Regions from separate parts of the Homo sapiens genome. Here regions 1 and 2 are each linked to region 3. Evidence: fine-mapped expression QTL. A gene starts in region 3. Each other region holds a variant in brackets. All regions are shown on one strand. Distances are between the middles of the regions.

Evidence for each region. PIP is the estimated chance that this variant, and not a neighbour inherited with it, causes the effect.
Region 1: its variant is fine-mapped to the expression of ERCC5 in whole blood (TOPMed, PIP above 0.99).
Region 2: its variant is fine-mapped to the expression of ERCC5 in whole blood (TOPMed, PIP 0.97).

The regions. Positions count from the first base shown.
Region 1 is chr13:102,883,746-102,886,516 of GRCh38, reverse strand. It overlaps the pseudogene METTL21EP. Among named protein-coding and RNA genes, the nearest start is that of ERCC5, 39 kb to the right of the region's middle. The variant C/T (reference allele first, on the strand shown) is at 1,119.
Region 2 is chr13:102,878,441-102,881,211 of GRCh38, reverse strand. It overlaps the pseudogene METTL21EP. Among named protein-coding and RNA genes, the nearest start is that of ERCC5, 34 kb to the right of the region's middle. The variant T/C (reference allele first, on the strand shown) is at 1,364.
Region 3 is chr13:102,844,687-102,847,457 of GRCh38, reverse strand. It overlaps ERCC5 (ERCC excision repair 5, endonuclease), which reads right to left and starts at 1,426. Exons shown (of 15, transcript NM_000123.4): 1 at 1,104-1,426. The coding sequence starts at 1,191. All of the region lies in intron 9 of BIVM-ERCC5 (BIVM-ERCC5 readthrough), which reads right to left. RefSeq lists a silencer at 638-687 and enhancers at 849-1,671, 1,038-1,827, 2,038-2,087, 1,672-2,496.

The sequences.
Region 1 (2,771 bases), 39 kb before region 3:
CACAACAGAACACTTTGTGGGCTACTTTATACAATAAAATTGTATATACATAATTTTGCAATGATAAGCACTCAGGTGTGCTACCCACAGTTACACAGGCATAACAGTTATGAGCAGAGAAATTGTATTCATAAAGAAATCACTTATATAGTTTGGTCACTTGAAATATCCTGATGAACAACCTAAGTCTTCTGATGAAACAGATCCAAACCTACAGTGGAGCTGAATGCAGTGGCTCACGCCTGTAGTCCCCGCTACTCAGGAAGCTGAGGTGGAAGGATCGTTAGAGCCCAGCCTGGGCAACATAGTGAGACGCCCCTTGCTAAAAAAATTAAAATTAAATACCAACAATGGGTCACCACCACATATACAGTCATATACAGTTGCCTAAAGAGCTGAGATATTGAAAAATGTTATCTTTCACAAATGCAGATGCAGAAAAAGGATATCCCTTTATTTATTGAGGAAGTTTTAAGGTTTTTACATATATATGCACAATGCTTACACACAAGGTCAGTGTTATTAAAATGCACTTCCATGGAGTCAATTTTGCAAAAAACAAAAAGTGCATAAAACAAATTAGAACTCTCTAAAAGCTCATACAATTTATGCCTCTAGTTTTGGAAATGTAAAGATGAAACACGTAGCATACCATAGTGAGTTGTAAAAAATAATGCTGATGATTTAAAATGGTGAGGAAAAAAACTTTAAAAAAGGAAAAAGAAAAACAAAACCTTCCCAAAGAAACTAAAAAGAAAATTCAACATATGAAAAAGCGCATTACAGGGATAAATTATGGGCAACTGCACGGAGGTAGCCCATAAGAGCTGGCCGACTTCCACAATCATTAACTGTATTCTGAAGTCTTGCGTGGAGATGAGTAACTGTTTCTTTTCTTTTAGGACATGGCTCTTCTTGAAGAATACATTCACATTGATTTTCTACATGATGCTGCTCTTTTTGAAATTCTAGTTTTATTCAATACACACTGACATGAGCATTTTCTATTAAATTTCCTATCTCTGTGTCATGCTTCTGTGTTGTTTTGGGTACATGGAAATCCTTTGCTCATGCACTCATATACAGACCACAGATTTGGCTGAAACAATACTGGTGAT[C/T]GAACAGCAACATCATTGTGTGCTTTCTTATCCTACCATGCACATAGTTATTTTAGAGTCAGTAACTTTGCTGGCTTCATCAGGCAAATTCAGCTTTAACTCATTAAGACCTCCTAGAATTTCATCAGCTAGAAGGAATGCCAATGCAGACAAATAATGCGTTATAAACTGAAGTTTTCCATGTTACTATATTCTACAGGCAATCCATTCATCTGAATTTTCCGGCAAATGTATTGGGCTGAATGGAAAAAGAAACTGTTGCTAACACCTTGAAATCCACCTTTAGAAGTTTTGATGGCACCTAATTCCAAATCTATCATTATGGTTTGGGAATTCAATTAGCTGTAAGGGCATTTGTTCTTTGGGGATTTCAACATTCAGGATCATGGCATTTTGGATTGTGTCTTTAGGGATTATAATGAATATTACACAAGGTGCATGGAGGGGAACTATAGAAAATAAGCCTGAAGAAGTAGGTTGGGATTAAATTTATGTGCAACATTGACCTTTGTTCTATAAGGTGAGGAGGAGCTAATAAAGATTATTAGAACAGGAATTGACATGATCAGATTTGATATTTAAGAACTACATCTGACAGCAGGAGCTGAAGAACTGGTGACCTTACAAGCTAATTAGAAGATTATTGGAACAGTCTAGATGAAAAATGACAAGAGTCTAAATGAAGGCCTTGGGTCAAGGAGCCAAGTATGAACGTGTGTGCTTTCAAAGTGGTGGTATGCCTCCCCTAGGGGTGGACAATTGACATTCAAACTTGACGTTCAAATCTGAGTTTTGAAGACATCTGAAGTAGACTGGTATATTCAAGAGTTATTTTTATTCAACATGTAGAAAATTTATTAGTCTTATCTGGAAGATAATTATTCATGTTACTTGTAAAATGTTTAAAATGTGTTAATAAATTATTCTCACTTTAGTAATTATATGTGCTATAGTACTCCAACTAGTATATTAAATATATTGCCTCAGACTGTAGTTTGATAGGTTTCTTAAAACAGTGGTAGAATTACATAAATTTCCATATATATTAATGCAATACTGTTTATAAAAACCATATTACCCATTAATCCAATTCTGCAAAGATTTATGAAGATGCTCCTGAAAATTTTTAATGTGATGCCTTGAGGAGAACATTATATTAGGTCCTGAAGGGAGTCAACTGACTTATGATCAGAAATACAAGATCATCACTCATGAGCAAATTTAAGTCAGCCAATACGGTTATGTTATAGCTAATTCATTCATTCATTCATTCACTCACTTATTAAGTACCTGGGCACTATGAATTAGAAGGCAGACCAAGTGCTATATAAGAGAGGTTCAGTAAAAGTGCTATAACAGAGACTTCAGTAGGCAATGCAAAAATGGAAAGTTCCACCTCTCAGAGAGCTCAGGAAAGAATTATCTGAGCCTTCCTAATTATGAGTTTGTCAAATAGGAGAAGGGAAGACCTGCCATATACAGGAAATGACATGTGCAAAAGCCCACTGGCAAAAAGTCTCCTGACCAATTTTGGAAACCCTGAGAACCAGAATATAGGATAAATGAGGATAGTAGCACAAGGTAAAACACATTACACCATACTAAGAAGCCTTGATTTTATCCTGTAAGAAATAATGAGGCACTGAAGAATTT
Region 2 (2,771 bases), 34 kb before region 3:
GTCTTCTTAGAATTGGTAAGCTACATAAACATAAAATGACTTACCTTCTTGAGCTTCTGAATCCATCAAGTAATGAAATGATGGTAGGTGATATATTGATGTTTTCTTCATTATTTCTTGAAAACTAGATAGATAATACATTAAAATATCAAATGGTAATAATTCAAAATATGTATGGAGTGCTTTTATAGTTTCTTAATAAAGCTTAACTTCAAATACAGCAGACAAAATTATATTAAAATATCATATATTAACGAAGCGTGACTTAAGAAAGACCATCTAAACACTATCTAGAACAAATTAAAATCAGAACAAAAGCTTCTGAGTCAGAAATTTTAAAAAGCTACTACAGAAAGAAAACATATTCTTCACCAGAGACTACCTCAGTTGTAACAAAGAAAGGCATCATCTTCATATTGACTAGTAAGACTGCAATCCTAAAATTTAAGAGGCGATTAAAACATTGAAAGTTCACTTGTTACCATCAATGCATCATTAGCACCTATGCAATGTCAAACAGCCTCATTGCCAGATAATCTTTTGAGCAGCGTCTACCTTAAGGAGTCCATACCATCACAGCCGATATATTTAAAACTGAAGAAACTATTTATGCCTCTTGAATAGAGCAGATTATCTGAATAAATTTAACAGTTATTCAAACTTTAGAAAATAACGATTTGATATTTTACTTCTCAATCTGGGGTAAAATAACAATTGCAGTACCATGAATTAATATAGCACTCCTTTCTTCCGAGAATCCCAAAGCACATTTTACAGCCACCACATTTTCTTTTACAGCATACTTCAGCAAGTTAGAAGACATTATTTTCCCTACAGTTTGCAAATCAGGAAAACCAAGGTTAAATTATGTCATTGAGGCTACACAGCTAAAACGATAGCAAAAGTGGTCACATGTTTTGCTCCCAATTTAGATCTCTTCCATTAAAGAAAGACATGTCTGCCTTAAGGCTGATATTTAAATGGAAAGCCTGGACATACCTAAAGGAGTTAGCTGAGTTTCTAGAAGGTTAAAATGTATCATCCACAATTTTTGTTTTTGCTGCTGGGACCTCTGGTAGTGACTGAAAGGCTAGCATCGCAGCACAGTTTACTACTATACACACTCGCTACCACTGGTAACGAGTCCAGGCAGAAGGGATTAGGATTCTGACAGCTGCAGCTCCCACGCCTCTGGTTATACAGCAGTGAGACGGCAATGCCCGTAACTAAGGGGGCAGAAGGCTAGGAATATCCCACGAGTGTCTCGTGAACAGAGCTAAAGGTGAATACAACCCACTCCCGGAAGTGAGTGAAGACTATTTGGAGGAAGTGATCCAGCTTTTAACTTGGATGCCAAGAGTTA[T/C]TCTAAGACTCCGTGGCTATGACATTCTAGGAAATGAACGCTACATATTTTTCATGTCACCTATCTGCATGGGAACACTGTCTTTAGACTCCAACAACCATACTAGAATGTCTGTAGCATTGCTCTGCACCCAGAAATCAAACTACCATGATTCCTTTTTATTCAGACTGAATGGGCAGGCTCCGAACATAGATCCATCTGTGCACCTGCCCAAGTGCATGTATGTGTGCCTCTCAGAGGACATACACATTTCCCATGCCACTGGAAAGATCCCTGATAGAAAGTTACAGAGTTAAGATAAAGCAATATTGGAAAGTTAAACTTAGGAGTGTGACTACAGGTCCATAATGTATACACAGATGAATCGAGGTCACTTTAATGTATTGGAAAGGGCTAGGAGTTGGGAAGCCTGATTTTAGTTATTCCTGCCTATAATTAGATTGTGATTTTAAGCCATTTACTTAGTATGTTTCTTGGTTTCATCATCTATAGAACAAGTATATATCGGCAGGGTGCCTTAGCCTTTGGGAGACCAAGGCAGGAGGACCACTCAGCCCAGGAAATGGAGGCTGCAGTGAGCCGTGGTCACACCACCAAACTCCCGCCTGGGTAGCAGAGCAAGACCCTATCTCAAAAAAATATAAATGTCTTTTAAAAATGATACAAAAGTCATACAACATATATTTGTGGGGTGAATATTATAGGTAAAAACATTCTGGAAAGTTCAAAATCCTAAGCAATGTGAACTATTATTCATAGGCAGTTAACTTGGGGCAGAGGATACTCTTTCTTTGGGGCTTTTTTAAAAACAAAATAAATGACGAATAAAAACCATTGTCTTTTTTAAGGATTTTTTTGAAAGATCATGCAATCCTCACTGTTAGATCTCTTAAGAGGCAGAATCCCTCAATCAAGCATCTTAACCAACATGACTGTTTAACAAATACATACAGACTTCTGCCTCCAGCTGTAAGTAGCTTATAGCAAACCTCAGCTTCTATTAACAATGAGAAAAATAGATTTTTAAACACACACACACACCCCACACAAACATGCCTCTGTTATAAAGTATCAGAGAGCTGTCAAGGCAGCCAAGAATTCCAGGCATTGCTGTTTCCTGAGGAAGCCAAAGAGAAGACCGCATGTAAGGATAGCAGCGGAGCATCAGGCAATCTCACAGAACTGTGGAGACAAAAGAAGAGTGTGGCTGCCAAGACAGTCAGATTTGTGGGCCCAAGATCCCAGAAAAAAGGGAGAGAGAAGCCTGACGCTTAGTGCTGACTATTCAGTCGAAGAATTGACTGATTAAGCTGTTTAGGGCAAGAGGCTAATTTTTGAAGCATTCAGTGGCAAAAGCAGATCCAAGCGCAAAAGAAGAAACATCAGGGCACTCCTGGAAAGTGACTTT
Region 3 (2,771 bases):
TCTTGCACTCCATTTCCCGTCCCCAATCCCCCCGCAATCATTTACAGGACTCTTTCCACAAGCCCACGAGCCCCTAGACTCATAGATCCCCATTTAGGAAATTGGTGTAAGGTATCACCAGATTCTGAGCCAGAATAGATACTCAAAAAAAAAAAAAAAATGACTACATAACAAAGAAAAAGATAAAAATTTCAAAAGCAGTATCACGTTTTGCTAATGAAAAAAGAATTTAATTCCAATGACAAACAAAACCAGCCAAACATGTACAGAAACAATAGTCCTTAAAAAGTCAATTTAAAAAATGGGTAAAACACCTGTCCACACTATCCTTCCTCTAAGAAACATAAATGGGGCAAGACTCAAGCAAAACTAATCGTCGAAGTCTACTCTGCTCTCCTTACTGACCTCCCGGACAGGATAATAACTTTAAGATTTACTGTATTAATCGCACTAAACTTCTCTCATGTAGGCAATTTCTTTATTCCTCATTCCAATCCTGTGTGTAGATACTATCACCACCTCTACTTTGCAGATGAGAGAACTAAGGCAGAGAGGAACATAAAGCACTGCCACAAAGTGACAAACCAGGATGCACAGGCCGCTAAGACTGCAAAGCTGGGGAAAGCAGACAGGGCGGCCCGCCTCATCACCCGATTCCGCAATCAACCTACCACGGATCAAAAATATTTGCGATGGAAAAAAATAAATAAATAAAACATACCAATAAAAACTACAAAAAATTTTAAAATACAGTATAACAACTATTTACAGATCACTTACATTGCATTCGGCATTACAAGTAAGCTAGAAACGATTTAAAAGATTACGGAAGTGGGTAGTTTATATGCAAATACCACGCCATTATATAAGGGAGTTGAAGGAACTTGAACATCGTGGTATACGGAGGAGGGGCTGGAACCAAAGCCCCGGGGATACCGAGGGACGACTGTACTTAGAAAACCTAGTGACAGAGATTCTATAGCGACCCCGACCCCGACCCAAGACCATCATCCTGCAGATGCCACTGTGCCCAAGGCAGAGCCCCGCGAGGAATCCAGCCCCGAATCCCTGCACCCCAAGTCCCAACGCGGCGTTAAGGATACCAACAGCCAGGATCTTCCCTTCCAGCGCTTCGGGGCTGACCTGCCGCCCGGAGCACTCCAGCAGCTTCCAGAGCCCCTGGACCCCCATGAGGCGGCTGCGTCCTAAGAGCGGACCCCGACAACTTCTACTCTAATTCTTCTACGACGGACTGCACCGCCGCCTAGGACCCCGGGAGGAAGCCCTCCCTGCTCCTACACAACAAAGATGGCAAATAATACAGAAGCCACGGTTTTCCAGTGGGGGACGGCACTAATGGGAGCGCATTAAAGCGGAGAGACTCTGGCTGCAACACGTCTCAGCAGCTGTCACCGCCTCCCGGAAGAAAGACAGGTCCAGAGAATGGCCGTTGGCGGGGAGGGGCAGGGCCTCGCCTCGCCCAGCGCTTAGGCCCAAACGTCTGCGCCGCTAATGGAAGACCGGGGTGCAAGGGCCACGCAGGCGACGGAAACAGCCAGAAGATGTCCCTGCGACACCTCCCGCCTTCGCTGGTGGGTCCGCAAACCCATGAAAAATGGGCCCGCTCGGTTTCCGTCTAATACGACGCGCAGGGCGGAAGCTCCGCCTCCGCACATGACGTATATTTTCTGCGCTTGCAGCACTCCGGAAGTGAGAAGTTTAGCGCCAGTGGTGATGCCTTGGTGGTTACTTGCTTCCGTCACGCTGGCATCCTGAAGGCGTTAAGCATTAAAACAATGTGCAAAAGCGCCTTCTTGGTGGAGTAACGGGCTTTTGTTTTTGTTTGAGACAGGGTCTCACGCTGTCGCCCATACTGGAGTCCAGTGGCGCATTCTTAGCTCACTGCAGCCTGGAACTCCTGCTGCCCGAGCTCAAGCAACTTTCCCATCTCAGCCTCTCAAGTAGCTGGGACCGCAGGTGCGCACCACTATGCTTGGCGAATTATTTTTGTAGAAATGAGGTCTCCCTGTGTTGCCCAGGCTGGGAACTATTTTCTACACGCTTTTTTAGTATCGGTTTCTACCTTTGCGCCGCCGTGTGTGAAGATACTTAACACAAAGTGTTGTTTTACACGTGAAGAGACAACCAAAAGGTGGATGCCTTCTTGGTTTTGTACTATTTATTTATATGCTAGCACGTAGTAACTAAAGAATAATAAAATTTAAAGCCTGTGAAAATGTTAGGGTCCCAAAATTACTAAGCAAAAGGGAAAAGTCAAGCTGGGAACTGCTCAGGGCAAAACCTGCCTCCCATTCTAGTCAGTCATCCTTCTGCTCACTGAGATAGATGCATATTCTGATTGTCTCCTTTGGAAAGGCTTATCAGAAACTCGTATGCAGCCTTTTGTCTCTCATCTACCTGTGACCTAGAAGCCCTTCCTGCTTCCGAGTTGTCCCCACCTTTCTGGAAGGAACCAGTGTACTTACATATGTTGATTGATGTCTCCTGTCTCCCTAAAATGTATAAAACCAATCTGTGCCCCAACCACCTTGGGCACATGTCATCTGGACTTCCTGGGGCTGTGTCACAGCTGCGCGTCCTTAACGTTGGCAAAATAAACTTTCTAAATTAACTGAGACCTGTCCCAAATTTTGGGGGTTCACAAGCCTTAATCCTTGACATATAGTTTAGTTTTCTTCAGCATCTAAAAGTTATAATGCCGCGGCTTGTAGATCAGAAAGGACTAGAAATCAATTAACAGAGTAACCCCA